Regions from separate parts of the Homo sapiens genome. Here regions 2, 3 and 4 are each linked to region 1. The links come from fine-mapping of genetic effects on plasma protein levels. Region 1 holds a variant in brackets. A gene starts in each other region. All regions are shown on their reverse strands. Distances are between the middles of the regions.

Region 1 (8,171 bases):
ATAATATGCTTACAGAATTTTAACTAAAATATTATTCAGGTTCTATTCAATTTCTTGGTCTCTTCTCTAATTTAATACCTGTAATTGATCTAAAAATGGTTTTCAGACTTTCTAAGAGCCACTAGAACCTTTCTTTGAACAAAAGTCTAAACCAGGAGCTTAATGTAGAAAACAGCTAAAAGCACAGAAGCTCTGGCTCAAGTGACTGGAGAAAGCCTGGGACCCTGAGGTTCCACTGGGCAAACTTTGAAGATCATTTAGCTAGTCCATCCTCTATAGTTGTAACATAGTTATAACGTAGAAAACAAAGACTTACATAACTAAGCAATTCACAAAGTTATCTAACTAATTGATTGCAGAGCTGGGACCAGAGCCCAAGTATCGTGACAATCTAAAGCCAATGCTCTTTTCACTCTATTACTGCTAATTTAGACTTTTTTCTCATGTATATTTTAAACTATGTAGAAGCTATATAGATTGATTGATTCATTCAACTGTTGATTGAGTGCCTACTATATTCTGTGCACTGCTTGCTGTATCAGTTTACAAAACCAATGAAGATCCATGCCCTTATGGAATTTACATTTTAGTAGAGTGAAGGATATTAAAACATCTTTATAGTAACGTGTTTAAAAAAATTAGTTCCTTGGTGGATTTAATTTTTTTGGTAAAAAGAACTGCTTGCAGATTCATATAGACTAAGTCCATTTTTTCCCCTTTCAAAAACTTTTCTTGTTACCAATGATCATTTCAAATTAGTTCCCAGCTATTGTAAATGTAGTGAATCTGCCTGCAGGTCCCAACTTTACTGCTTAGTAACATCGTGTTAACATTGTGAGCAAATTACGTAACCTGAGTCTCAATTTCCCCATATGTGAAAGGGAAATGTTATTTGTATTGTTTTGCTCAGGGTCATTATAAATAACAGATTTTGTAGTTTATATAAAAATGTTCTATAAACTGCAAAGCACACTAGAAATATTGGTTGAGTACTGTGATATGCAAAATGTTTAAAACAATATTTTATGGTGACTATATGTTAGATACGTTATCATTAGAAAAGAAATGAGTTCTAGTTCTTTTAAAACTCTAGATATTGAGGTTTAATGACTTGATTGCCATTTGAGAAGATTAAAGTATTTAAGTTGCTTTTATTTCTGACAGACAAGAGGATTTGTTGCAAGCAGTAAACCATCCAATGGTTGTTCAGAGCTTACTAACCCAGAGGCAGTGATGGGAAAAATCGCACTGATACAAAGAGGACAGTGCATGTTTGCAGAAAAGGCACGCAACATCCAGAATGCTGGAGCCATTGGTGGCATTGTTATTGGTAAGTAATCATCCATGTCATTGTGTTGACTGAAGGGGAGATAATTTTTAGGATTTTTTCCCTTTTATTTTCTAAAATTTTATCAAAGAGTTTGTCATAGTTTTTTTTACCTCACCTAGACAACAAGGATAGGTAATCCAATGACTTTTAATTTCTAGATATCTAACATCTTTTTTAAAAGTCTAGATTTGAATTTCTGTATATTAATGTCAGTGAAAATACTTGGGTTTAGGTGTGAGGGTGAGGTAGGGCTGAGTAGTAAAAAAATTCAGTACCATGGATAAGAAAAGGTGCCCATGAGATCCATAACCCCCGAAGGGCAAGAATTACACTGTGCCACGTCCAGTGGGGAGCCATTGAAAATTTCCATTACTCCACAAAGATGCAGGCTTTGGAGGCAGACACATGAGAGTACAGTTCCTGGCTCTACCACAAAATTGCAGTGTAACCTTGGCCTAGCTTCAGTTTTTTAATCTGTAGATTAAATAGTATAATTTTTTTTTATTTGATAGTAGAATATTTTTGAGCTCCAGTGGAAGTGATAATAAATATATTTTAGGTGATTGTAAGGTTTAAAGATATATAAAATTTCTTGGCATAATAGCAGACATAGGATAAGTGCTACTATAACAGGGTTTACAGTATTGCTAGCAGATCTTTATCCCCTTGGATCTTTTTCTACCGAAATGACAAGTTACCACCTTTAAATCATCTTACCTATATGTATCAACTAGTGGGTTTTGCTTTTTTATCTTTCATAGACAATCACTTATATCATGATAAACAGGCCATGACTATTAGGGGAAATATAAATTTTTCTGTTTTAAAGTAAATAGGAGTTTACATTCAGAAAGAACTGTAAGACCTGGGCTCACAATATGCTGATTGTGAGTTCTTTTGTACAGCTTCTCTCACAGGGAAATCCATTTTGGATTCCCCCCTCCCCTGCCGCCCAATAGTTAAGGTAAATAAAAAAAAATAGTTCAGGTAAAACAGAATATTAACACTTATTATGTTGATTTAATGGATGCATAAATTTTATTAATAAACATTAGGAGAAGTCCTGTTTAATGACTTAAATCAGCAGTTGGCAAACTACAAGACTATAGGCCAAATCCAGCTCATTGCCCATTTTTGTAAATAAAAGTTTTATTGGGACACAGTCATGCCAATTTGTTTGTGTATGGTCTATGACTGCTTTGAACTGCAGTGATGGAGTTGAGTACTTACAGGAGAGAACTACAAAGCCTGAAATATTTATTCATCATCTAGCCAGTTACAGAAGAGATTTGCCGACCCCTGACTTAAATCATGCTCTTTATCCTTGGGTATTTCCCACACTTAGATTAGTTTTATTGCAGAATTTATTATATTAACCATCACTATCATTTTGAACAGTTCTTACCAAGACTTCAAAATGAAAATGTAAAGTATAAAGTGTAGAATTTATGCATTAATGTTTAAAAATATTTCTTTGTGTAGTATTTTGGTTTTTTATATTTTTCAGTGAAGTCTAATTCTCATGATCTTCTATAGTATGCAATAATTGTCAATTTTTGTTTTGTTTGTTTTGAGATGGTGTCTTGCTCTGTCACCCAGGTTGGAATGCAGTGGCGTGATCTTGGCTCACTGCAACCTCCATCTCTCAGGTTCAAGCAATTCTCCCTGCCTCAGTCTCCCGAGTAGCTGGGATTACAGGTGCCTGCCACCACGCCTGGCTAATTTTTATATATATTTTTTTCTTTTTAGTAGAGATGGGGTTTCTCCATGTTGGCCAGGCTGGTCTTGAACGCCTGACCTCAGGTGTTCTGCCTGCCTTGGCCTCCCACAGTGCTGGGATTACAGTCATGAGCCACCAAGCCTGGCCCGTCAAATGTTTTTTTTGGTAGCTATTAGTTGGAAAATGGTATACTGGGTTCTGTGGATAAATAAATAAGAGATGATGATCCTTACTCTCAGAAATTTTTTTTTTTTTTTTTTTTTTTTTTTTTTTGAGACAGAGTCTTGCTTTGTCACCCAGGCTAGAGTGCAGTGGCATGATCTTGGCTCACTACAACCTCCACCTCTAGGTTTAAGTAGGTCTTATGCCTCAGCCTCCTGAGTAGCTGGGATTACAGGCACGTGCCACCAAGCCTGGCTAATTTTTGTATTTTTAGTAGAGAAGGGGTTTCGCTGTGTTGGCCAAGTTGGTCTCAAACTCATGGCCTCAAGTGGTCTGCCTTGGCCTCCAAAAGTGCTGGGATTACAGCCATGAGCCACCGCACCCAGCCAAAAATTTAATTTTTAATGAGAAACTTTCTTGTGTTGACTTCTTTCTCCTGAGTTTTTTGTTTCTGACAAAGCATTTTGTTTTTGTTTTAATTGTATATAAATGAATAAATTAGGAATTAGCTGTTTTTTGTTGCAAGGGTTAGAAATACGAATTATCTTAGAAATCATGTGGCTGCAGGAGATAATTACGTTGGTTTAAGAAGGGAGGTTTTTTCACTACACAGAAATGGATTATTTTTAGTGAATTAAACAGTACAAATACAACTAGGATTCACCAGGAGGTAGAAGTGGGAACTAAAAATCACCAGGATCCATGATAGTGAATGTTTTTCACTTTTCTCTCTGTATCTCTACCTCTGGGTCCTTCTGAACTTTTCTTCCCTGCTTCTCTTTGCAATTCTGCTTCATTTTCCAGCTTCTCACCAGCCTTCTCTCTCTTTGTTCCTCAGTTCCAAAATGGCCATTCTAGTTTGCAGCCTCAGCCCCTAAGTCTGTGTCATTCAACTGGACTATTACCCCCTGCTAACTGAAACAGTCTTTCTGTGTGCCAGTTCCAGGTCCCCCAGAGAGACTCAGGGTCAGGTAGCCATCTTTTGTCTAATCAATTATTACCAAGAGGATGGGTCATGCATTCTGCACTTAGCAGGTCCTATGAGAGTGAGCACCCTGAGACAGGACAGATAGTTTCTTCTGGGAGACTGGCATGCGATTTGGAGGTGGTCGTGATTGTCGTCTTCAGTAAAACAGCATGTTGCTGGTACTACTACTATTAATAGTTCTACTACTATTATTTAACCAATGCAAAATAGCAATACTGTTTAGTTTAGCTTATAGAGGAAGAAGCACTATAGTCATAACTATTCTTTGTGTGCATTATATAAAAAAGAAATGTCCATTTTTAGTTTGGTAAAACAATGTAATCATGCCAGTAGTGGAAATTTTCAACAATAAAATTCATTCATAGTTCTATCACTGTAATCCGAGTCATTGATTTTTTCCTTTCTAGGCTTTTCCATAAGCATATGAAATTTTTATAGTCATAATCATAGAATTCTGTATTCTACTTTTTAAATGTATTATTATTCTGTGTGTCCTATCAAGTAGGTCATTATAATTTACTTATAATGGTGTACAGTTGTTTACAATTATAAATAGTCTAGTAAAATTATTTGGGCATAGGGCTTTTCGCTACTTTTGAATTATTTCCTTTGGATACGTTTCTATGAGAATTAATGGGTCCAAAAATTATGTTGGTTTTTATGGTTCTTGATGCATAAAATTAATTCTGTCATTGTAAAAAATCAGTAACAATTAGTAGATAGATCTTTTTAATGGCTGGATATTTTGATGTTTGCTGTATTTATTTTCTGGCTAGATGACAATGAGGGGAGCAGCAGTGATACTGCC[C/T]CTCTGTTCCAGATGGCAGGTGATGGAAAGGATACAGATGACATCAAGATCCCCATGCTGTTCTTATTCAGCAAAGAAGGAAGTATCATACTGGATGCCATCCGGGAATATGAGGAGGTAGAAGTGCTCCTCTCTGATAAAGCAAAAGATCGAGGTAAGAGTAAAATACCATTTGTTTTTTTATGCAGCGTAATATTAATTTTGCTAGTTTGATAACAAGAATGAGTCACAAAAAATTGTTTTGGGGGGTTCACTGTGAAAACAAGTAAAACTTTTAGAAGATGATTTCAAAATATATTTTTCTTTTGGAAATAAGAATAATAAAACATTTATTTTGCTTTGTTTTCTGAGTTAGGATGTTTTTAGACATATGTTTTTATGTGTGATTTGTAATTTTTGCCCTGAGTCTGTTCAGGTGATAAAAATACAAGAGACTGCTTCAGGAAAGCCATTTTAACATCCGGAAATGTTCACAATTTGATTTCACTGATACTACATCTTACATGTCTTTTATAAGGAATGAGAAGACATATATAGAATGTTGTATACAATATCATAGTAGTTAGTCTCAACAGGCCACCTATAATCAAATGACTGCTGTCTTGGTGAAGGCAATAGAAATCTAGCAGCTTCTTCCCAATGAGATCTAAGTTTATCACATGGATATAAGAGTTACAAATGGCTGTTTCTGAAAAACAAGATAGCATGTCTTAATTTATGAGAGTAGATAGTCCTCTGTAGGCCAAAATGTTTGTTAGTAATTTGAAATGTCTTTGAAACCCAAATTACAATATAAATGCAAGGCCTTACTAGTATTCTTACATAGTTTCACACCCAGGGATAGAGGAGAAATGAGGGAATGTGAGCCTTCAGATCTTGCTTGTGGTAGCAGTCTTTCCTGTCTGCTGGAGAGACCTGAAGAGAGAGCTAAAGTTCTCCCATACCCTTAAATAGATGAAGTTGCATAATAGTACAGGGTTGTTACATCCCCTGGGGTGTTTGACAGATATGTAGGAAACTGATTCAATTCAATGTGACTTCCAAGTGGGACATTTAAAAAAAAATGTTCGGTGATAATCATGCTAGCATAATCATGCTAGCCTAATTTTGTCTTCTTGTATTGCTTTATTCTTCTTTGAGATTCTTTGAAATGTCAATTATTTATGAGCAATGGAGTGAGCAAGTAGGTTGTTTGTATATAACAATGTATAGATGGAAACAGAACAGAATACAAAGGTTTTCTAGTCTTAAATCCTCTGTATACCTGATTTTTTTTTCCTGGGCCCTTTTCTAAACTCAGATCTTCTTGCCTACATATATGCATTTAGGCACATCTAACATAGGCAAATTATTATTTCTTGTAACTCTTTAATGCATTTGCTTTTTTTCCCCCTATTTTGTGCTACCACTGGAATTTCAGCAGCAATATTAAAAGGTAAAATGATTCCAAGCTACATTATTAATAGTAGTAAGTATCTTGCATTAACAAGCCTTAAATTATATACGTATATATGTATTTGGGTGTGTGTACACACACTCAAGTACATATATAATTTTGTTTCAGTGGATACCATGATAATATCTTGTGTAACGTAATTAGATTATTTTCATGTCTAGTCAGCAGTCACATAATAATTTTAAATTCTAATAATTATACATCCCATACAATAGATGAATTCTATGTCTATGTCCATACAAGAGTCACTCTAACAAAGGCATTGTTGTTTTAGTATTTATTACTTTGATCACATTTTATTTGAACACAATGTAAAATATTTAAAGTATTGACTTGTTTTAAAAGCTCATGTGTGTGTATGGTACATGGGTTAGGACTACAGGATTATGGTACAGCATGTGCTTCCTGTACCAGAGAAAGGTTATGAGACATGATTAATTCTACCAGAAAATAAGAATTCTTGGTGAACAGTATCCCCTTAAGGACCTTGCATTAAAAGGGCATTATTTAAAAGATATTTTTTGAAAACTTTAGTCTATAAATTTATTGAACTGTGATTGTTATAGAGTGATCTTTTGATAAAAGTATTGAAAAGCCCCCTTTTTGTGTAATAGCTCTTTATAGAACTGTACAGCTATATTAATTAGCAACAAGATACAGTCTAATTGTTAATATTTATTAATGTAACAGAAATCAATGGTAATAGTGTTATGAAATCAACAAATGTATTCACTTAGGATATCCTAAGAAGCTACACAGTCTGTAGCGGTTATCATTTGTCCTATACCATTACTACATACATCAGTGTTTCTCCCCTGCATCAGAATCAACAGATACACTTGTTAGAAGTGTTGGCTTCTGAGTCCTGCTCCAAATATTCAATCAGACTTTCTGATTCAGACTTTATGATTGGGAATCAGAATCTGAAACTTCAAACAAACATCCCGGGTGATTGTGTTGTAGCTGCTTCCTCAGCTACACTTTGAGAAATATTGAACAAGATTCAGAAAGCACCCCTTTTTTGTCTCCCAGCTATGTATCAGGCCATATTGTACCATTACAGGTACTAGTTAACAGATTATATAAGTACACTAAGTAACAACATCCTTAAAATCTGAACAATAAAATGTTCTCCAGATTGCCTTTTCTAGAAATGTCATTCCACAAATACGTATTTTTCCATATGAAGTCACACAATGCTGATTAAGAAGTCCTTTTCATATTTAATACAGAAAATAGAAGCCCTTAAAAAGCCTTCACTCCTGTCTTCTTCTTCTGATAAGTCCATGCCATTAGTATAGATGTATCTGAAACTGTTCTGCTAGCAGAAATTTTCTGGTCATCTTAATACACATTTAGAAGCCAAAAAGCATTAGCATTTTATCAAGTGATGTTGCTTCCTTAGGTCAAACCTGTGACACTTCTGAAAGTTAAGCTATCCACAGTCTATTGTTGAACAGAATTTTCAATATCATATCTCTCAGTGTTTCATTTTTCCAAAATTTCAGTTTGTAAAGGTACTTAATTATTCCAACCGTGTGCCCACAAACAAAAGGCAATGTTTTGTTACCTTTAGGTCCAAATTGAAGCAGTTTACAATTAAGAGTAAATTTCCTTTTTTCAATAGTATTTGTCACAGGGAAAAAAACATCAGCATTTTTAAGTTCCAATTCATTGTCATGCTTGCAGCTTAGAGTGTAAGCCTAT
Region 2 (3,038 bases), not on the chromosome of region 1:
TGGGCGACCGCCAAACCTTAGCGGCCCAGCTGACAAAAGCCTGCCCTCCCCCAGGGTCCCCGGAGAGCTGGTGCCTCCCCTGGGTCCCAATTTGCATGGCAGGAAGGGGCCTGGTGAGGAAGAGGCGGGGAGGGGACAGGCTGCAGCCGGTGCAGTTACACGTTTTCCTCCAAGGAGCCTCGGACGTTGTCACGGGTTTGGGGTCGGGGACAGAGCGGTGACCATGGCCAGGCTGGCGTTGTCTCCTGTGCCCAGCCACTGGATGGTGGCGTTGCTGCTGCTGCTCTCAGGTACAGAACCCACGACGAGGCCTGTGGGGTTTGCTCTCATCTCCAGCTGTCTGGGCCCTGCGGCTCTGCCTCCTGCTTGCTCCACCCTCCTCCTCTGTCTCTCACTCTTTACCGCCTGTCTCCCTCTCATGGCCCTGGGGCCTGGGTCTGTGGGTGTCAGCTGCACGTGGTGATGGGCTCAGGAGCCTGTGGCCCCAGTTCCTCTCCTGCCTGGAGAGCATCAGGCTGAGCTGGGCATGAGGAGCAAACCAGAGTTAGCAACCAGGACCGTGGAAGAACTAGGCTCAGGAGGAAGAGAGGCTGAGGGCGGTGCCTGGGGGTCGGGAGGGGAGAGGCTGTCCCAACCGGACCCTGGAAGATGCAAGATCCAAATGTGGTCCCCTCCTCTGGGAGGTGAAAGATCCTCCGGGCTGTGACTTTCTTCCTGTCTCTCTTTAAAAAAAAAAAAAAAAAGAGAGACAGGGTGTCCCTATGTTGCCCAGGCTGGTCTCAAACTCCTGGACCCAAGCGATCCTCCTGTCTTGGCCTCTCAAAATACTGAGATTTCCCTGTCCCTCCTGTCTCATTCAGATGCCTGCTCAAAGCCACCATGAGGGTCAAAGGCAGAAAGGGGGCTGGGGGCAGGGCTTCCGGTACCCCCACCCCATATCTGTCTCCCAAGTACTGGGGGCAGGGAGGACCGAGGGGTCTTGAAGCTGCTGTCATGGAAGGAGGAAGTAGCTCCGGGAACATAGAGGGCATGCAGGGGTGGGGCAGCCCAGGCCAGAGGAGGCCCTGACTGGCCCCGCCCACTTCCTCCCACCCAGCAGCTGAGCCAGTACCAGCAGCCAGATCGGAGGACCGGTACCGGAATCCCAAAGGTCAGTAGCCTCGCCTGCCGCTTCTGAGGGCAAGTTGTGTGCGACTATGTCCTGTGTCCGACTATGGTCCCTGTCCTGGGGGCGGTCCGCCTTCCCACCCTTGCCTGATCTCCCCATCCAGGATTCCCATCCCCAGGCCTCCTTAGGATCTCCTCTGAGCCCCACCCCCAGCCCACTGTCATCCTCATCAGACACATGCCCTCCAGCCTTGGCCACTGAAGGGCTGGGCTAAACTCTGGGTCATAGCAAGGGAGCCTGGGGGTTCCTCTAGGACTCAGGCCCGGGCCTGTCTAGCTGGGAATCTGGCTGAGTCTCGGGTGAGCCCTCCAGTGCAGGGTCACTATGTGAGGGGCTCAGGGATTCCCGGGCAGTGCTCACTAAGAACAAGGCAGTCGAAGCTGGAAAGAGGGTTCTGGAACAAGAAGTGGACCCAGTCCCTGCAGGAGGGAAGAGGGGGATGATAGAGGGAAGTCATGCAGGGAGGGGGTCGACTGAGGAAGGTCTCAGTTGACAGACTAGGAATTTGGCCTTTATCCCTGGAGGAACGGGGGAGACTGAGGATTTCAAGCCTGTGCAGGGCAGCCCAGTGAAAGGAGGGGCCAGGCCTGTGGGCCTCCAGGTCCTGGGGGTGTGGCCTGGGTCAGGCTGTTGTAATGGGCATAGGAAGGAATGGCAAGGTCCCAGGGCTCTTCCAAAGGAAAATCGAAGGGGAGGTGGGGCAGTCGGGAAGAGGTGGAGTCTGAGAGCTTGGCCGTGGCTTCTCATGTGGCTCAGCCTCTCACGTGGCTCTGCTTCCCAACTCCAACCTCAGCCTCCTGCCTGTCCCACACCCTGAGAAGCAAGGACTAAGCCCAGGGAGTCTGTGCCAGCCAGGGCAGGGGCCTGCTGCTGGGGCTGGCACTCAGGAAGATGCCAAGCGGAATGCTGAGCCTGGCCTTGGCACCCACAGGTAGTGCTTGTTCGCGGATCTGGCAGAGCCCACGTTTCATAGCCAGGAAACGGGGCTTCACGGTGAAAATGCACTGCTACATGAACAGCGCCTCCGGCAATGTGAGCTGGCTCTGGAAGCAGGAGATGGACGAGAATCCCCAGCAGCTGAAGCTGGAAAAGGGCCGCATGGAAGAGTCCCAGAACGAATCTCTCGCCACCCTCACCATCCAAGGCATCCGGTTTGAGGACAATGGCATCTACTTCTGTCAGCAGAAGTGCAACAACACCTCGGAGGTCTACCAGGGCTGCGGCACAGAGCTGCGAGTCATGGGTGTGTGCCAGGTGGCTGGGACGCTCCTGTAGCTGTCCGCCCCACCCTAGCCCGGCCTGCCTCTTGTGGTGATGGTCATGGCCCTAGAGCACTCAGGAGAGCCACTGGGACCTGAGGGAGCTGCCCTTGTAGGCCTAAAAGGTGGACTGTGGCCCAGGCTCACAACCCCACCCCTGTCCCCGCAGGATTCAGCACCTTGGCACAGCTGAAGCAGAGGAACACGCTGAAGGATGGTATCATCATGATCCAGACGCTGCTGATCATCCTCTTCATCATCGTGCCTATCTTCCTGCTGCTGGACAAGGTGATCAGGGGACGGGGGAAGCCTTGGGGGACCGCAGAGGAGGCCACCGCATAGGCCAGGCATATGCAGGGTCTCCATCTCCCCAGCTCTCGTTGTGGCCTTCTTGGTCCAGCCTGTCCCCACTGGCTCACCAATTCAATCATTCCTTCCTTCCTTCCTTCATTCAGCTGTTCTTGCAGAATGCACCTCACTCCTGACCCCTCACCCCTCTCCCTGGCCCTCCCCAGCCTGGCCCAGCAGGGGATGGGGCTGGGGGACACTAACACTCTGATCTCCATCCCTCTCCGCCCCCAGGATGACAGCAAGGCTGGCATGGAGGAAGA
Region 3 (8,171 bases), not on the chromosome of region 1:
CTCCTCTTCTGCCCCTCTCACTTATTCTAAATTATAAATCTATTCTCTCAATAAACAGATTCTTCTACTAACAGTGGGGAGTGGGAAGGGGAGAGAGTTGGATTTGACTAATTCATACTAAGATATGAATGACTCACAGCCACTCTTCCAGAGTATCTGCCTAGATTCTATTCTTCATTTAGTCATCCTGCTTGAAATGTGACTAATTATTTCGTTTAGCAAACACTGATTGAGCACCTCTTCTGTGCTAGGCACTATTTTAAGCATGAGGAATACGGAAGTCAGAGTGAAAGAAAAGTCACTCTCCTTTTGCAGTTTATGTTGAAGTAGGGGAGTAAAAGATTTATACTCTATTTCAGCCAATCTGTGCATTTATTAATATTTTCTCCCTCTTCTGTTATACATATATTTACAAACTTTGATAAGAAAGAGGTAAGTTTTCCCTCTTAGTGCCTCTCCAATCTTTGTATACAGACATGAACTCACAAATGATCAACTAATCGATGCCACGTATATATAAGACAGGAGATTAATGTTCCTAATATATAAATAGCTCCTAACAATCAATAAGACAACTATACAAACTACACATAACCCATGAGGAAAAAAAGTGAAAGGTCATAACATATAGTTCAGAGAATAAGAAATACAGGTGACATGTAAACATATGAAAGATGTTCAATCTCACAATAAAAAATATAAGATATGAAATACCATTTTCACTTATGAGCTTGACCACAATTGTAAATATTTCTAATATTTAGTGTTTGTGAAGATATGAACAAATAGGCTTTCTTACCCACTAATGGGAGGATTTTTTTCTTTAGGGGGCACTTTGATACTTCCTATTACAATCGTAAATGCGGATGTCATAAGACCTTTCACCCTCTCCTAGAAATCTATCCTACTAAAACAAAAACACACACACACACATATATATATATATGTCTGTATATGTAAAGGAAGAGCATTGCTCATAACAGCAAACTGAGAATATCCTAGATTGTCTAAGTGGTTAAACAAATTTTGGTATATTCACAAAATATAATACCATTAAGGACTGAATTCAGCATATGTACATGTACTGATTTTGTAAACACATAGAAAGTAAGTTGCAGAACACTACATGTAGCAGAAATCCACTTTTGCTGAAAAAAAAAAGTGTGTGTGTGTGTTTAGACACAGGAAATGTCCAAGATATTGACAGTGATTATATTTAGGAATTAAATTAGAGGGAGAACAGGTAGGTTTCACTCTTTATTGTTTTTAAAGGGAAAAAAGGAAGGAAAAGACAGAAAAAGAGAGATGAGATTATGGATTTTTTTTGGTGTTCTGTGTCCAAATTTCCAAGTGAAAGAATGTTTTATTTTTAGTATCAGGAAAAAAATAAAACCAAAATTTCATGAATCACTTCACCTTACCAAACCGTAGAATGTTTAGCAGACCAAGTGATATAATGGAAAGAACCCCAAAATGGAGTCCAAACATCCAAACTGACGTAGAATAATAACATTCGTTTATTTTTTATGTTTTTTTCTTTATTATTAAAGTAATATAATGGAATTACAGAAAATAAGAAAAGAAGGGGAAAATCCCCTACTATTTCATCACTCTCACCCAGGGAGCATCTGGTGATGCCTGGAAACATTTTTGGTTGTCAAAATTGGGCTGGTTGAGGGAGGACTGCTATTGCTATCTAGGGGCAGAGGCCAAGAGTGCTGCCAAACACCCTGCAGTGCACAGGCCAGCCTCCCACAGCAAAGACATACAGCCTAAAACGTCAACAGTGCCAGTGCTGAGAAACCTTGTCACCACTGTGAGCAAAAAACATTTCAGTGTATATCTTTCAATTTTTTTCCCTGTAATCTTTTAAAAAGTAATTTATAACCTTATCATACATTTAATACCCATTTGTTTCATTAAAGCTTATGGCATAAATATTGCCCATCTTACTGCATGGTATTCATAAGCATCTTATTTAACAGTTCCATAATATTTAATCCCTCTATTGTTAGGTATCAGATTGTTGCCAATTTTTTAAAATATCATAAGTATTTGTGTGTTCAGCAAATATTCGTTGAGTGCCTACTGTGTGCCAGGGCCCCAGGCTAGGCCCTGAGGATAGATTTTCCCAAATAGTGTTGCTGATCAAAGAAAAAGAACATTTTTCTGGTTCTCAACACATGTTGATAATTGGTACTGTTACACTGTATTTTCACCCATTGTTTAAAAAATATTATTTTTTTGCTAATTTGAAAGATCTGATCATTTTTTGGTCTGTTTATGTCACTGGTTTCTTATCAACCTGTATGAGTCCTTCATGTTAAAAGATAAAAAGGTTAAGTGAAATAACATGAGTCATCATCCTCTTGCCAGTGTTAGGTACCTATTTTTTTATTTCTTTCCTTTCCGTCTATCCTGTAGATGTGGAATAGCGATGGCATTCAGGCCTGTGAGGTCACATTTGCTAAAATGGGGCTGCAGCATCTATCAGACTATCTTTTCCTTGGGCCAGAGTTAACTGTACAGTTATAAAATATTACTTATAAAATATAAATATTACTTATAAAATATTTTATAACTGTACAGTTATAAAATATTAATGTGATATTTTATGATTATTGTATTATAAACACAAATTCACTTACTAGGCAGAAGAAAACTTAAAATACCCCTAATGCCAAGCAAAGCATTATAACCATATGGGAATAAAACAAAGGGACATTAAATCTAGTCATGGATTACAACTAATTTTGCCAATGTTTATGGCCTACTCTGGTGGAGTTCTTGTCCTTTAATGAATTTGGTTGAAATTTTTAGGAGTAATAAAGGCTTCCTGGAGGGTGATGGATTAGATCCAATATTTACTTAATTTCTTATCAAACCCTCTCTTCCACAGCTCCATTTCCTTGGGGTGCAGCTGTCATTAGTGAGGGACGAAAAGGCAGAATACAAAGATCATGTAAATACACACATGTTCTTTAACCTCTAAACCTCATATCAGGGCAGTTGGTCTAAGAGAAGAAGACTGACATCTTCTTCAGGTAAGAATTATGACCATATGTGAATTCCCATATCCGAATGGAGACATTTAAAGAGCAATGAAATGTAAACTGGGGAAGAAGTGATGGCTCATTCAGGTTGGGGAAGTGGGTTTGTCCCTGGGGGAAGCCCAGTATAACACTATGGAACTAATACTACTTCTCTATCTTCCAAGGGTAGGATGGGTAGGAGGATGAGATAGAGAAAAAGTTAAGCAGCCAGGAGCAGTGGCTCATGCCTGTAATCCCAGCACTTTGGGAGGCCGAGGCAGGCGGATCACCTGAGGTCAGGAGTTCGAGATCAGCCTGGCCAATATGGTGAAACCCCATTTCTACTAAAAATACAAAAATTAGCTGGGCGTGGTGGCAGGTGCCTGTAGTCCCAGCTACTCGGGAGGCTGAGGCAGGAGAATCACTTGAACCCGGGAGGCAGTGAGCTGAGATTGCACCACTGCACTCCAGCATGGGCAACAGAGTGAGACTCTGTCTCAAAAAAAAAAAAAAAAAGACAAAAAAAACCGGTTAAACTTCCTTTCTCAAAAGTAGGAGCAAGAGGCCTGCATGGTGGCTCCCGCCAGTAATCCCAGGACTTCTGGAGCCTGAGGAGGGAGGATCGCCTGAGGCTAGGAGTTCGAGAACAGCCTGGGCAACATAACAAGAGCCCCATCTCTACAAAAACAAAAAAAAAATTCTTAAGTAGGATCAAAGATTAAGACAGTTGATTTATTAAACCTCTACTAAGTGACCAAACTTTATTAAACTCCATGAAACCCCATGCCCAACCTCCTTCTCAGTCACACTGAGACACTCTTGTACATTTTCCACATGGGGTTTCAATTCCCCACAGTATTTCTGTGACTTCCTTGAAGACCACACTCTAACTGCTGTCATGTGGCCTCTGCCTACCTACTTTTACTGAGAAAGGCTAAGTTTTTCTTCAGAGTATCATAGTTCTCCTTAAATACTGTTGACGACTGTCATTGTCAACTGATACATCCTTTCTGGAAAGCATTTTCAGTTTTCTTCAAAAGGCCTTTAAAATATTCAGGCTCTTTGACTAAGTAGTTACACTTCTAAGTTTACTTGAAGGAAACAATCAGCAATATTCCAGAGATATATATGCAATGAGTTCAGTGAATGGCTAAGACAGAACCACTGTAAATAACCTTTATACCCAACAGTGAGGAATTAATTTCATTTAGTTACCCAATCTAATCGAATGCAGCAATGAAAACATTTTTTAGAAGGTTATTTAATTCATAGAAAAGCATCCACAGTAAATTTTTTTCAAGTATTAAAAAAAGAGGTAGAACAATGGTACTTTTACTCCTTGTGTTATAAGACAAACCCAGACTGAACTTTGACATAGGCCAAGGTCAATGTGTCTAAGAAATGTTTTATTATACTATTTTTATTCTTAGGCTCCTCCATTCCTCTTTTAGGACTCCTTTGGGTTCTCAGAATGGACAGAGCAAATAAATTCCGTTCAGGGATCCTGGACCTGCTTAGCGCAGGAAGAGACTTACTTAGATGCTGCAGCTGGGATAACTTACACAAGTCATGTTACTAGCAAGCAGCTGGCGGTGGACTTGGACCCGTGTCCAGACCTCCAGCCTAGCATCAGAGCTATATTCTGAACACACAGTCGCATAAGAATGACTACCTATCCTATACTACCTATCTTATTTATTTTTAGAGGTATAAATTATTTTTAGAGCAAAACTGAATCGCGCCTGGAGGAAGGCCAGATGCATTGCCTGTTCTTATTAACCCCAACAGGTAATTGGCTCTACTGCCCCCTAGACCATCGCGTTCCCTTTCCCTTCTCCTCTCTCCATCCCAAAGAAAGGGTGTAGAGACCCTCCGTCCTAAAGTGCCCAGCGAGCTAGCCAGAGATACTGGGCCGTGGGCACCCGCGGAGGAACAACGCTCCCTACCTGCAGGCGGACAGAAGCGCGGCTGGTGCGGAGCCTCGGGAAGCTGCGCAGAACTGGGGCCGCGCGGGACGCGCCAGCTGCTCAGCGTTGCGCCAGGCCCGGAGGCGGGGTCCCGCCCACCTCTGCCCAAGGCAGCAAATCCAGTTTGCCGGGCGTTGGACTTTCCTGACCTTCGGTGAAATCGGCGGAAGCTTTCAGTTTAGGTATCTAGTGTTGGTGTCCTAGGAATAAAGCTGTGTATAGAAATGAAACAGAAAGTGAAACATGTCAGTCCAGTTTTCTTGTAAATGAGATTTTCACCGGGAAGAGTTTCGAAGATTAAAGCAAATCCACATTTAGTATGTTATTAATAAAAAAAGAAATTTACAACAAGCCAACATCTGAACGCACCTTGATTTTACCTTCAGAGGGGTAAGAGCTTAAGGTTACCCCTTAACCTTTATCAGAAAGGCGTCCCCCTTTCTGATAAAAGCCTCTTCAAGGTGACTGAACATCTTGACATAACTTGATATAACTCTACAACATATAAAAAGTCAGCAGCAGACCCATATGGCTTTGGTTTTTATTCTAGAAAGTAGGTGTGTGTGTGTGTGTATGGGTGTATAATAGGAAATATATTTTTAAATCGTGGATTCTGTGACTTCCTCAAAGTTCCTCGACATAATGAAACTTCATTTGCTTTGTCATTAAAAGAACTTCCCATCCCGAGCTACATCTTTTAAGAATGCTCAGGGTCCCTGATATTCTGCCACCCTAAGGATTAAGGCTGCGGAAGCCTATTCTAGGTGAGGGTTAAGAAAGCCCTTTTGAAAGCTTTGGGTTAGTGAATGGGCCCAAGATGACAGACGATGGTGTCATAATTTACTTAAGTATTATCCCGCGCTGAACTTCTAGGTGCTCTCTTTTCTCGAACTCCTTGACCTCAAGTGATCCGCCAAAGTGCTGATATTACAGGCTTGAGCCACCGTGCCTGTGTGCTCCCTTTTCTTTTTTTTCTCTTTTTCTAAATTGAGAAATTGGACTCTTCGTTGTTTGCCTTTCCTTCTTATTCATTTCAACTGCAGTTCAAAATACTGCATAATGAATGAATATTGAGATAGCCCTTGCATTGGTTATGACATTTGCTTCCAAAATAAGAATTTTCACATTCTGATTGTATCACAGATTTTTATTTTTATCTGGGAAATTATTGAGGCTGACACTGCCTTGATTTGGCAGGAGCATGGAGTTCTCTTTGGCCCCAATAAAATTGCAATAGGGTTTGGGCCCAGCTCAGATGTTCCTTCTTTCAAATCACTTTTGAGGTCACATAGTAGAATAGAGCAATTTTGGTGACTGTAAGTTTGGGTGACTTCCCAAAGTTCCCGAAGTTGGGTGACTTCCCAACTTTGGTGACTGTGACCTCTAGGAAAATATAGACATTATGTGGCAATACAGTTTACAGGTACTGCATATATATAGTCTGTGTATGACACACACATGTACAACAAGTTTCATGAAAAAATACTTAGATCTACTATCTGCAATGCCCTCTGATATTTTCATTTAATGTTTTATTTTTCTAAAAATGGTCAAGACCCAGGGCATAAACTTTATGATCTGCTAGTTCATCATGACTCTTGAGGTCTGCAAAAAACAAAACAAAAAAAAACAACTGGCTTCAGAGCCATCTACCACTAACTAGCTGAGTTAACTTGGGCAAATAATTTACCAAGTAGCCAGGATTAAATCATATCCTCCTAGATGGCCTGGATGATCTATGAATAATTTTTTAAACTGGGGATGGGTATTTTGTTTTTGTTTTATGAAAGCAGTGTTCAGGGTCTACCTAAATGATCAATGAGGCAAACGGAATTTGCCTTTCTCTAAAGTTGCTGATGGGAATTGAGGGTATTTGCTCAGCTTGCTGCTCAGTGATTTGCGTATTAGTAATGTGAGGATTCGTGTTTTTGTTCATCTTTCCCACCTGTTTCTACCCTTCAGCCATTCATTTTCCCATACAATTGATCAACTACCCGGAGATTGAAAAACAGGCTGTGTTTAGAAAAAGAGAAATTTTATTACCTCAGAAAAATATGTAAAGCAAAACAGATGGTTAATGAGTGGGGGGTTAAGTCCTGAAACTCTGTGTGAATTTTTTTATTTGGACGAAATAGATGGAGAAGTGCTGAGATGGGAGAAGAGCAGTGGGGAGCCAGGGCTGAAGAGCTAGATACTATGGTCATCTTGAATACCACCACTTCCTATTCATGTAACATCTACTCTATTCATTTTTAGACATATAAATTCATCATTGCCAATGTGCTGTTTCTCAGAGTGTCTCTGATGGTTACTTGCATTACACTCGACTTGGGGTTAATGTTTAAAATACAGATTCCAGGGTTCTGCCTGGGATCCAAACTTGGGGGCAGGGTCTTGGAGGTCAACATTTTAACATTGTCCTCAGGTGAGTCATGTTCACATTTGAAGTTTTGAAAACTAGTGATTTAATATTTAAGGGAAAAAATGAGCCAAGAGTTCTTTGCAAGTACAGCTGTAATTCGCTTTCTTCCATCTAATTTGGCTGATTTATCAGTACCATCCTTCCTTCTGCCTCTGTCTACCCTGCTTGCCACTTTTGCTTCTAAAGCAGGAGAGATGATCCTCGTTTGTACTGATCTCAGGAGGACTGATTTCAAGATCTTATAAGTGGACCTGAAGAGATGTGAGCAAATTCCTGGTGAAGGAGCAATTTCCAGTAAATGTTCTTGATCTTCAAAAGCAGCATATACTAAAGAGACTCAAAACAAAAGACATGACAAACTGCTTTGTTTGCATCGAATATTTTAAAATGCATTTTATTATGTATAAAGACAATATCAAGATTTGTCTCCAGGTTCTATTTTTGATCATGTAGGGTTTTAAACCACTGCCCTATGCAATGCTCATTTCTCTTCCTCTGTTTCCATCCAACCCCTCACATTTGTTGCCCCTACCCTTGTCATAGACTCACATCCTATATGTGTCTCGTGTCAAACAGACTTCGTGGAAAGAATACTTTGTTCTAGTTACACAAAACAATGGTTTAAATGACAGGGGTAATTAACATGTATGGGTGACCAGAGAGTAGCAGCTGTCCTCATCTGACACTCACAATCAGATGCTTCTCTCGCTCACACTGTGTCTCTCTCCTTCCTGTCCTAAGCTGGGGAAG
Region 4 (8,171 bases), 25 Mb before region 1:
GGTGGAAGGAGAGGAGGCTAATCAATGTAACGGGATGTTACACATACAAGAAACTTGCTCAATAGGTGCCAAGAAAAGGTGGTGAATAGTGGATAGATGTGGACTACAAGGAGGTTCCCAGAAGCAGCAGTATTGTCTCTGTTAATGCTACAGAGGTAACCAAGCCTTTAAGGAACATATTAGAAGTATAGTATTCCCATGTAATGCAATACCCAGAAATGCATTGTGGAGAAAAAACAATTCTTTATCACTGAAACTCAATAAACAACTTAAGGTATTCCCTAGAAGAAATGATTAAAACTCCATCCCAGTACTGTTTGGCTGACCTTAAGATCAACTTGATGTTTAGCATCCCATATTTATAGAGTTTAGATTTTAAAGAGGAAGGATTAATGAACATGTTTACTGACTGATTAAAAGAATACATCATAAAGCAGAGAATATTCTTCAGTTGCGGCAAGACAGCAATGTGTCTGTACTTTGCAAGTTCATAGACAGGTTTCAAGGCAAAAAAGCTGGAATCTTTTGGCTACACAAGCAATAAACACCAAAGATACTCATCCAGCTAGATTTCCTACCTCCCAGAGTTCATGGAAATTACCAAGTGTCATTCAATAAGTGTAGGAGATATGGGGAAACAGAGATTATCAGAATTTCATCACGTCCTTGGGCTCAACAGTAATTCTTAGTCCTTCTGAGCACATTTAGATCATGGGTACATTCTAGAAAGTTACATTCGTCAAAGGTGAAATACATCCTTTGCCTAGAGTGAATGTATTATTTAATCAGCTGAAATCATTAAAGCCACCTACATCATGACTGATGTGAGGATTTTGTCCAATGCCCTGGGATGGATTGGGGATGTGCCCAGCACCCTCCCACTCAGTATGCATCTGGAAGCTCTCCCTTTCTTCCAGCCCAGAGAGAGTCTGTGTCTGGGGAGGGGTGGGGAGTGTGTGTTGTCTGGGAAGCACCGGGATGCATATCAATCACACTGTTTGGCGGGTAGCACAGACACACTGCCCCTTTATCCAATCACTATGCAGGCCGTCCCTGGGCCAGAAAGGAGAACTCTTTACGATACAGATGGTGCTATTAGTTTCAATAAGAATGTTTGTGAAGTGCTTAACAGTTTACAGAGTCCTCTAGGTTATTTGTTTTTATTTTGCCAGGAACAACATTTAGATGGCGGATTTTGATCCTGGTGTTTGCACTTTCCAGCCACATCCTTCTAACTGACTAATCAACAAAGATGTGTGGAACTTGTCTCCTGGATCTATGATAAAAATGGGCCTAGAAATGTCCCAAGCTGGGAACTCACTGGTTTTTTACTGGTGATGGCTTCTGATGCTACCACCATCCAGAACACCAGGGACCTCTCTTGATCCCACAGATATCTTTTCATGACCATTTCTCTGGACACATTTCCTCCCTACCCAGCTGGTTGTTTAAATTGATCTTTTCATGTTAACATGTTCAAATTTTAGAGAATACACCCACTATAGGCAGGTCTGTTCATCTTTTTTTTTTTTCTTGTTGTTCATTTTATTTAGCTTTAGCTTAGCCCACTTATCAGACACCTGTGTGTTGTTAAAACAGTTAACTTCTCAGTTGTACCTTCACATTTACATAACTTCACCAACCTTTTGGTCATGGAGGAAGCAAAGTCCTTTTTATCCATTGTGACTAGGTCTCTCACTTAGGACCAGGACAAGCTGTACCTCCAGCAGCCTCTCAAGTCCCTTCAACCTTCCTTTGTAGAAAACAATTCAGGCTTCCAATAGGCACTCTGAACTACTGCTTTTTCTCTGCTACTTAAAAGAATTTTGTAGCCCATCTACCTTGACCAATCCTTCATTTTTTATGGTGTCACTAGTTTGTAACAGTGTCTCCTTTACTCAGGATGCGTGCCTCTCATTGAGTCCACAAATCACCCCCCTACAAGTCTCTTATCAGTACATCTGCCCATTCATGCATATGAGTAAGCTGTTAATCAGCTTTTGTTTAATATTACTATGAACATTTCAACTTCAAGTTAATATTGTAACTAGGTCTCTCCCTTAGGACCAGGACAGGCTGTACCTCCAGCAGCCCCTCAAGTCCCTTTGACCTTACTTTGTAGAAAACAATTCAGTCTTCCAATGAGCACTCAGAGCTACTGCTTTTTCTCTGTTACTTAAAAGAATTTTGTAGCCCACTTACCTTGACCAATCCCTCATTACTTCTCTGCATGGAAACTGATAAAAATTTATGTCTACTTCAGAGCCTGGCATCATCCCTGGCATTTTTTTTTTTCTTCTACCTTCCACATATGTCCCTGTCCCACTTACCAGCCAGAGAGGAGACGACAACAATGCTTCCATTGCTCTGCTTCAGCATGGGCAAGGCAGCTACAGTCAGGACCACGTAACTGAGGAAGTTGACTTCCATGCTTTTGCGCACATGGTGAATATCATCATGAAAAAGATTCAAAGAAGTGTTGGTGATGTGGTTGAGAATGAGCATGTCTAGTCCTCCTGCAAGAGATGGCTATATTAAGAAATCATCTGGGGTTGATACCTTTCCCATTCTCCTCCCAAAAGCTCTTGGTGACCCCAAGGGCAAAGTTCAGAGGAGGAGGTAAGAGAAACAGCCTCACCCATGAGCTTTCCTGCTTGGGCAACAAATTGCTCTGCGAAGGTCATGTCTTCCATGGTGCCAGCAATGTAGTGTGCTGAGGCTGCTCCAAGCTCCAGGCAGTGGGATACCACCTGCAGTGATACAGCAGAAATGGCATCAGTCTTAGCTGCAGATTTTTGGGGGGTAGTCTCTGAAGTAACGGGGGGCTTAAATGAGAGATTGCTCACAGCCCTGTTTAGGTAAGAAATGGTAAGTATGTTTGTGTGTGTGTTGCCTAATATAACCCTCATGATCATCGTCCTCTGTCTGAAATATTTTCTGGAACTTGGTGGGGTTCAAATGGATAAATCATCCCAGTGCTGGGGTTTAAGTTCATGATTTATGCTCATGGCTTCTGTGAATAGGCATTTCTGAGGGCATTATGAGTGTAGATGCTGGTTACTATGTGGGTAGCTCTAGGTTTGTGAATGTTTGTACATCCTTGGGTTTGTGAGTCCATGAGAGGGCATGTGTCTGGGAGTCTGCATGGGTATGAGGATATGTATTCATAAGCAGGTACTGGGATTTCAGTTTTTGAAAACATCCGTATGTATCTGTAGTTCCATGTGTAAATGTGTGTGACTAGGCATGTCTGTGAGCATATATAACTCAAGGACTCTGTTGCAGAATATATTACACACACACACATGAATGAATGCTTAAATGCATACTTTTATATTCCTGTGGGTTTTTTGGTGTTTGAATCTATATATGAGAGTGCAAAATTAAGTGTCTGTGTGTGTGCATGTGCCTCTGTATATAGATCTGCGATATGCTAGCTTCTGTGTATATGTGAGCATATATAAGAACACATCTGAGCATGTGACGGTACACATATCTGCGAGCATAGAACCCTCACCTTCTGTAGAGTTTCTTTTGACCTCGCTGTCACCACCACATGGGCTCCCATCTTCGCCAGATGATAAGCCATCTCTCTTCCGATCCCTTTGCTGGCCCCTGTGACAATCACTTTCTTTCCTTGGAGCATCTCTGGGGAACCCCAAAAGGAAGTGAGGACCATACCCAAGTTGGCAGCAAAATTCCTTCTCCCTCTCTGGATATAGGCATGCTTATCGCAATTTGTAACTTAAAGGTTATGAGCCCAGATCAGTTTGTCACAAACTCCGTAAATCACTGTGGGAACAGGCCAGGTCTTTCATAAACATGCTCTGAAGTGGGAGGTTTGGGCTGACAGCCTCCCTACTGTCATTTCTAAAAACCTCCATGGAAAGAGATCATAGGATGAAGCCAGAAAAGTCATGGTTCAGCTAAAATGCTGGAGTTCCAGACATTTCTGGACTCTTTCAATTTTGCTCAATTGAAAGTACATTTAACAAGGAATCAAAACACATGTGTTCATAGAAATTCCAGGGATTTTCCCTCACTTCTATGTAGTCATCATCTCCAGTTTTTTTTTTTTTTTTTTTTGCCTCCCACTTATCAGTCTCTTCATAGAGCCCAATTAGCTGCTGAGTTGTGAATTTGGGTATTACTCTCATTTTTGTAGAAGATTTGAAACTGCTTTCCATTAAGGGTGCCAAATAAAGCATGGCCTATTTGGCTAGATTTTGGCTACACGATTACCCTTCCTACACAGTCCCCCCTGTCCACAGCCTGTAGCTGGAGGACACAAAAATACCATCTTAACTCAGGGTTCCCTCATTTTCACCAACTTTGAGGATCAAGAACACATCTTGGTCCTCAGGAACACTCAAGCACCCCTGTGTTTTTTAAACCTATTCCTCCAAAATGAGACGCATGGGTACTTACCTGGTCTGAATTCCTCGTTTGCAGAATAGTAGTAGTAGGCCATGAAGAGCCCCAGAATGGGGAGGAGATATTTTTTCATAAAAGCCATCCGACAGGGAGCTGGCCTGAAGACTCCTGTAGGACACACAGAGAGAACCTACAGAGCTTTCTACAACCTCCTAAGCAGGCAGCAGCCTCTGAATTGTGACATCAGGGACGGGGGAGGCTGGAGTAGTCTCAGGCAGTGCTAGCCAATTTCCCTGTCAGAGCAGCGATTGGCTTTGGGTGGGATCCCATTCGTCCCTGGCAGCCTGTGTGGTGGATTTCATAATGGACAATGTTTACTCCATTTCATTGAGCAAGAGGAGACTTCCAGATGGCCAAGCTCATGACTGTACAGGACTGGATTCCTGAGCATCCCTACCCGAGTCCATCTTACTCTTAACACCATTTACGCCAGGGATCAATGATCTTTCAAAAGTAATTTGTCAAAGACAGAGAGAGAGGAGTGCATGTAGGGCTTCTGGGGGGAAATGTGAGTAATAGCAAAGAGAGCCAAACTCAAGCCAAATCTCACTCTCAGTCCCCCTACCCCCCCACCCAGTGGGAAGCAATTAAAAATAACAGCACAAAACAGCAAAATAAGCTTAAGAAAAAAAATGTGCACATTTTGGGAAAAAATAATGAAAGCAAAGAAGCTCTATAAGCCCCACACTCAAGTTCAATGAAAAAGTATTACAACATCAAAGGAGAAATTGCAAGCCAGCCAGAACCCAGATGGCGGGAAATCCAAGACTGGTTCAAGACTCTAAGGCAAGTGCAATGGATCATACACTTATTATTTTAACAGAGAACAAAGAAGAAATAATGAGTGACAAAAAAGGCACTAAACTATTAAACTGGGTCTTGTAAATGCTGTAGAGCAACAAGAAACATGGAGAAGATGCTAGGAAGAGGCGACCTGATGTAGAAGAAAAAAGAACTAGCATTAGGCAAGTGAAACTAGCTGGGGACGCCCACACCAGCTAAAAATAGATCTAGTAACAGTAAAAGGACGAGGGTGGTAAGAAACCCTTAGCAATTTAGAATTTATTATCAGGGAAATATAAAAATAACCACCTCAGTATGTCCGTAGCACGAATTCATTAAGGAATAATCCTCAAAGAAAGAATTTAAGATGTATCATTGTTAAGTTTTTCAACTCAAAACCAACCAATCAACTCATGGAAATTACCCCATCACAATGCAGTCCTGCATTCTGTAAGTTATCAGTAGAGCGGGGAAAAAATTTAAATGTGATAATAAGTATCAGTGCTTTGGAGGAGGGATAGGAGTTGGGAGTAGTGGGGGGACAGAATTTACACAAGGTTAAGGGAAATTAAGTTATGATTCCAAGTGCAGTATCTGGAAACATTCATCAAATTTTCACTTTAGAGTAAGAGAAAATAATTTAAGACCCAGAGGAGATGAAACAATTTGTCAACAAAGGCCCACAGCTGTGAGGGTCACTTGTAGAAAACAATGGAGATTTGAGAACAGTTGAGGGCTAGACAGAGCTCGAGGTCTATGAAGGACAAAAAGAGAAAAAAGATAAAATTCAAGTAAAAATTAGATTACATGCCTTTAGAACTGCAAGCTACATTTGTATAATTTTATAAATATATTTATGATACCAGGATATATTACAGACTACACTCCATTTTCATCCCTAGAGGGAAGGCAGTGCCAGCCAGAACCCAGATAAGGTTTATTTTCTTAATCCTATACTATTAATAGTAAAATTATAGGAAACAATGAAAAGTTATTTGGAAATATGATGATGTTGAAATGATAGAAAGATGGGCAGACTAGGGATGTTTATTGTCTGACATAAAAAATAAATAAAGAATTTTAAAGTCCATTAAGAAAACATAAATTTAAAGAAAGCAAAAATAACAATGAGTAAGATAAACTGCAGAGTAATAGAACACAAAGCAAATGCATTAACAATTGCTGATTGTTGGCTCCATTAAAAAATGAAGTCCAACATTGTGTGGCCTCAAAAGACACATTTAAACCCAAAGACACAAACAGATTAATAATTAGATGACCTAATAGCTACGATGCTAGAAAATAAGGATATGGCAAAAGCATCCAATAAAGTGAGTTTCATGGGATTAGATAAAATAATTGCTATATAAAATGCATTGATGAGAAACAAGGACACTGTGTAATGGTAGTTGATGCATTAAATCTTACCAGTTCTCAAATTTTTGGTCTCAGGACCCTTGTATACTCTTAATAATTTCCAAGGACCTCAAAGAACTTTTGCCTGTGTAGGTTTTACCTATTGATATTGCTATTGCAATTTATGCATTAGAAATTAAGACTGAGGATTTTTTTCTAAAGCTCAAGAATACATAAGCATACATTCCATTAGCATTCAGGGCAGTGGCATTAGCATACATCCTGTAGCCTCTGGAAAAGTCAGGTAATGTCTTAGTATAATTATGAAAATAGTTTTGACCTTTCAACCCTTCAAGAGGGTCTCAGAGACCCATGGGGACCACACTTTGACCATATTATATAATAAACATCTAATCCACTTTGTGTCCATATTTACATGGCTGGTTCTCTCATTAGCTTGTAAACTCCTGGAGGACATAGATTATGTCTTTTTCATCTTTGTCTCTTTCCATTTCCCACTAGCCTTGCTCCAAAATAGGCATTCAATAAACTTGCTGTTTTAGTGTTTTTGAGATACTGCAGCAATGAGAAAATTGCTGTCTTCCTGGAGCCTGGTTTAATCTGGGGAAATCACTGGGATTCAGCATTCTGGTCAGAACAGATCAATCCCATCCCCCAAATCTTCTTTCTGGGGTTGTCAACAAAGTTTTAAAAAATAATAAAGACAAAATGAAATACAACTGTTTCAGCTAGCATTTGTTTCAAGTCAAGTATTCCCTGATTGAATTAAAGTTCCATAGAAAAACAGTGAACAGTTCACTCCACTCCTTGCACCCTCCTTTGTAATACACTGACCATTCCCATTCCAGAGCAGGCTTTCAGCAGATACCTGGAGCCTACCTGCACAGAATGGGCTTTTCACTGCTGGAGGTGAGTATTAGAGCCCAGCCAGGAATTCTCTCTGATTTGATCATTCTCACCAGAATAAATGGAATCAAGCACAAGCAACAGAGTGAGAAGAACATAGGGGCTGAATGAACAAGAATGGGACTGTGAAGGATGGGCCAGATCTGGGGAGACTGATAGGAGATGGCAAAAATGTGAGGAGGGGCAGCCAGAGGGGAAGTTCCTTGCATTTGGCATAAAACGTTGATCATGAAAGAAACACCTGTCATTTAGAAGGTGGCAGCTGTAGTGCTTTTCATGACTATTTAGTAGATTTGTTAAGCAAGTGCTCCCATTTGAAAATGAAATCTTGTTGGGCAAACCTCAGAGTAAAAAGTAGGTAAACACTGTGTTCAGAGGTTCTGCCTTTCCTGGGAGAATAACACTGCAACGTTGAAACAGGAGAGGATCTTTGCATTACATGAGAATTGATAGGGTCTGGCTGTGTCCCCACCCAAATCTCAACTTGAATTATATCTCCCACAATTTCCACATGTTGTGAGAGGGACCCAGGGGGAGGTAATTGAATCATGGAGGCTGGTCTTTCCTGTGCTATTCTCTTGATAGTGAATAAGTCTCACGAGATCTGATGGGTTTATCAGGGGTTTCCACTTTTGCTTCTTCCTCATTTTTCTCTTGCTACTGCCATGTAA

Alleles and levels. Positions count from the first base shown, and alleles are read on the strand shown. Strength reflects both the effect of a copy and how common the allele is.
As copies of T replace C in region 1, the plasma level of the protein whose gene starts at base 154 in region 2 goes up (moderate association).
In carriers of allele T in region 1, the plasma level of the protein whose gene starts at base 5,033 in region 3 tends to be higher than with C alone (weak association).
In carriers of allele T in region 1, the plasma level of the protein whose gene starts at base 4,613 in region 4 tends to be higher than with C alone (weak association).

The links. PIP is the posterior inclusion probability: the model's chance that the variant is causal. The UK Biobank Pharma Proteomics Project read protein levels with antibody pairs (Olink). The fine-mapping took linkage between variants from a reference panel, not from the people measured, so its PIPs are less certain.
Region 2: CD79B starts here. The variant in region 1 is fine-mapped to the plasma level of the CD79B protein (UK Biobank, PIP 0.93).
Region 3: CD274 starts here. The variant in region 1 is fine-mapped to the plasma level of the CD274 protein (UK Biobank, PIP above 0.99).
Region 4: it holds the start of HSD11B1, and the variant in region 1 is fine-mapped to the plasma level of the HSD11B1 protein (UK Biobank, PIP above 0.99).

What each region holds. Positions count from the first base shown.
Region 1 is chr1:184,699,802-184,707,972 of GRCh38, reverse strand. EDEM3 (ER degradation enhancing alpha-mannosidase like protein 3) reads left to right here. Exons shown (of 20, transcript NM_025191.4): 18 at 1,165-1,330; 19 at 4,977-5,162. Among named protein-coding and RNA genes, the nearest start is that of EDEM3, 51 kb to the left of the region's middle. The variant C/T (reference allele first, on the strand shown) is at 5,009.
Region 2 is chr17:63,929,447-63,932,484 of GRCh38, reverse strand. It overlaps CD79B (CD79b molecule), which reads left to right and starts at 154. Exons shown (of 6, transcript NM_000626.4): 1 at 154-290; 2 at 1,100-1,150; 3 at 2,100-2,411; 4 at 2,597-2,715; 5 at 3,010-3,038. The coding sequence starts at 224. RefSeq lists enhancers at 1-174, 148-537 and a silencer at 1,235-1,304.
Region 3 is chr9:5,447,404-5,455,574 of GRCh38, reverse strand. It overlaps CD274 (CD274 molecule), which reads right to left and starts at 5,033. Exons shown (of 7, transcript NM_014143.4): 1 at 4,979-5,033. RefSeq lists enhancers at 4,757-4,916, 5,207-5,256.
Region 4 is chr1:209,701,288-209,709,458 of GRCh38, reverse strand. HSD11B1 (hydroxysteroid 11-beta dehydrogenase 1) reads right to left here and starts at 4,613. Exons shown (of 6, transcript NM_005525.4): 1 at 4,429-4,613; 2 at 3,518-3,648; 3 at 2,639-2,750; 4 at 2,331-2,516. The coding sequence starts at 4,516. All of the region lies in intron 1 of HSD11B1-AS1 (HSD11B1 antisense RNA 1), which reads left to right.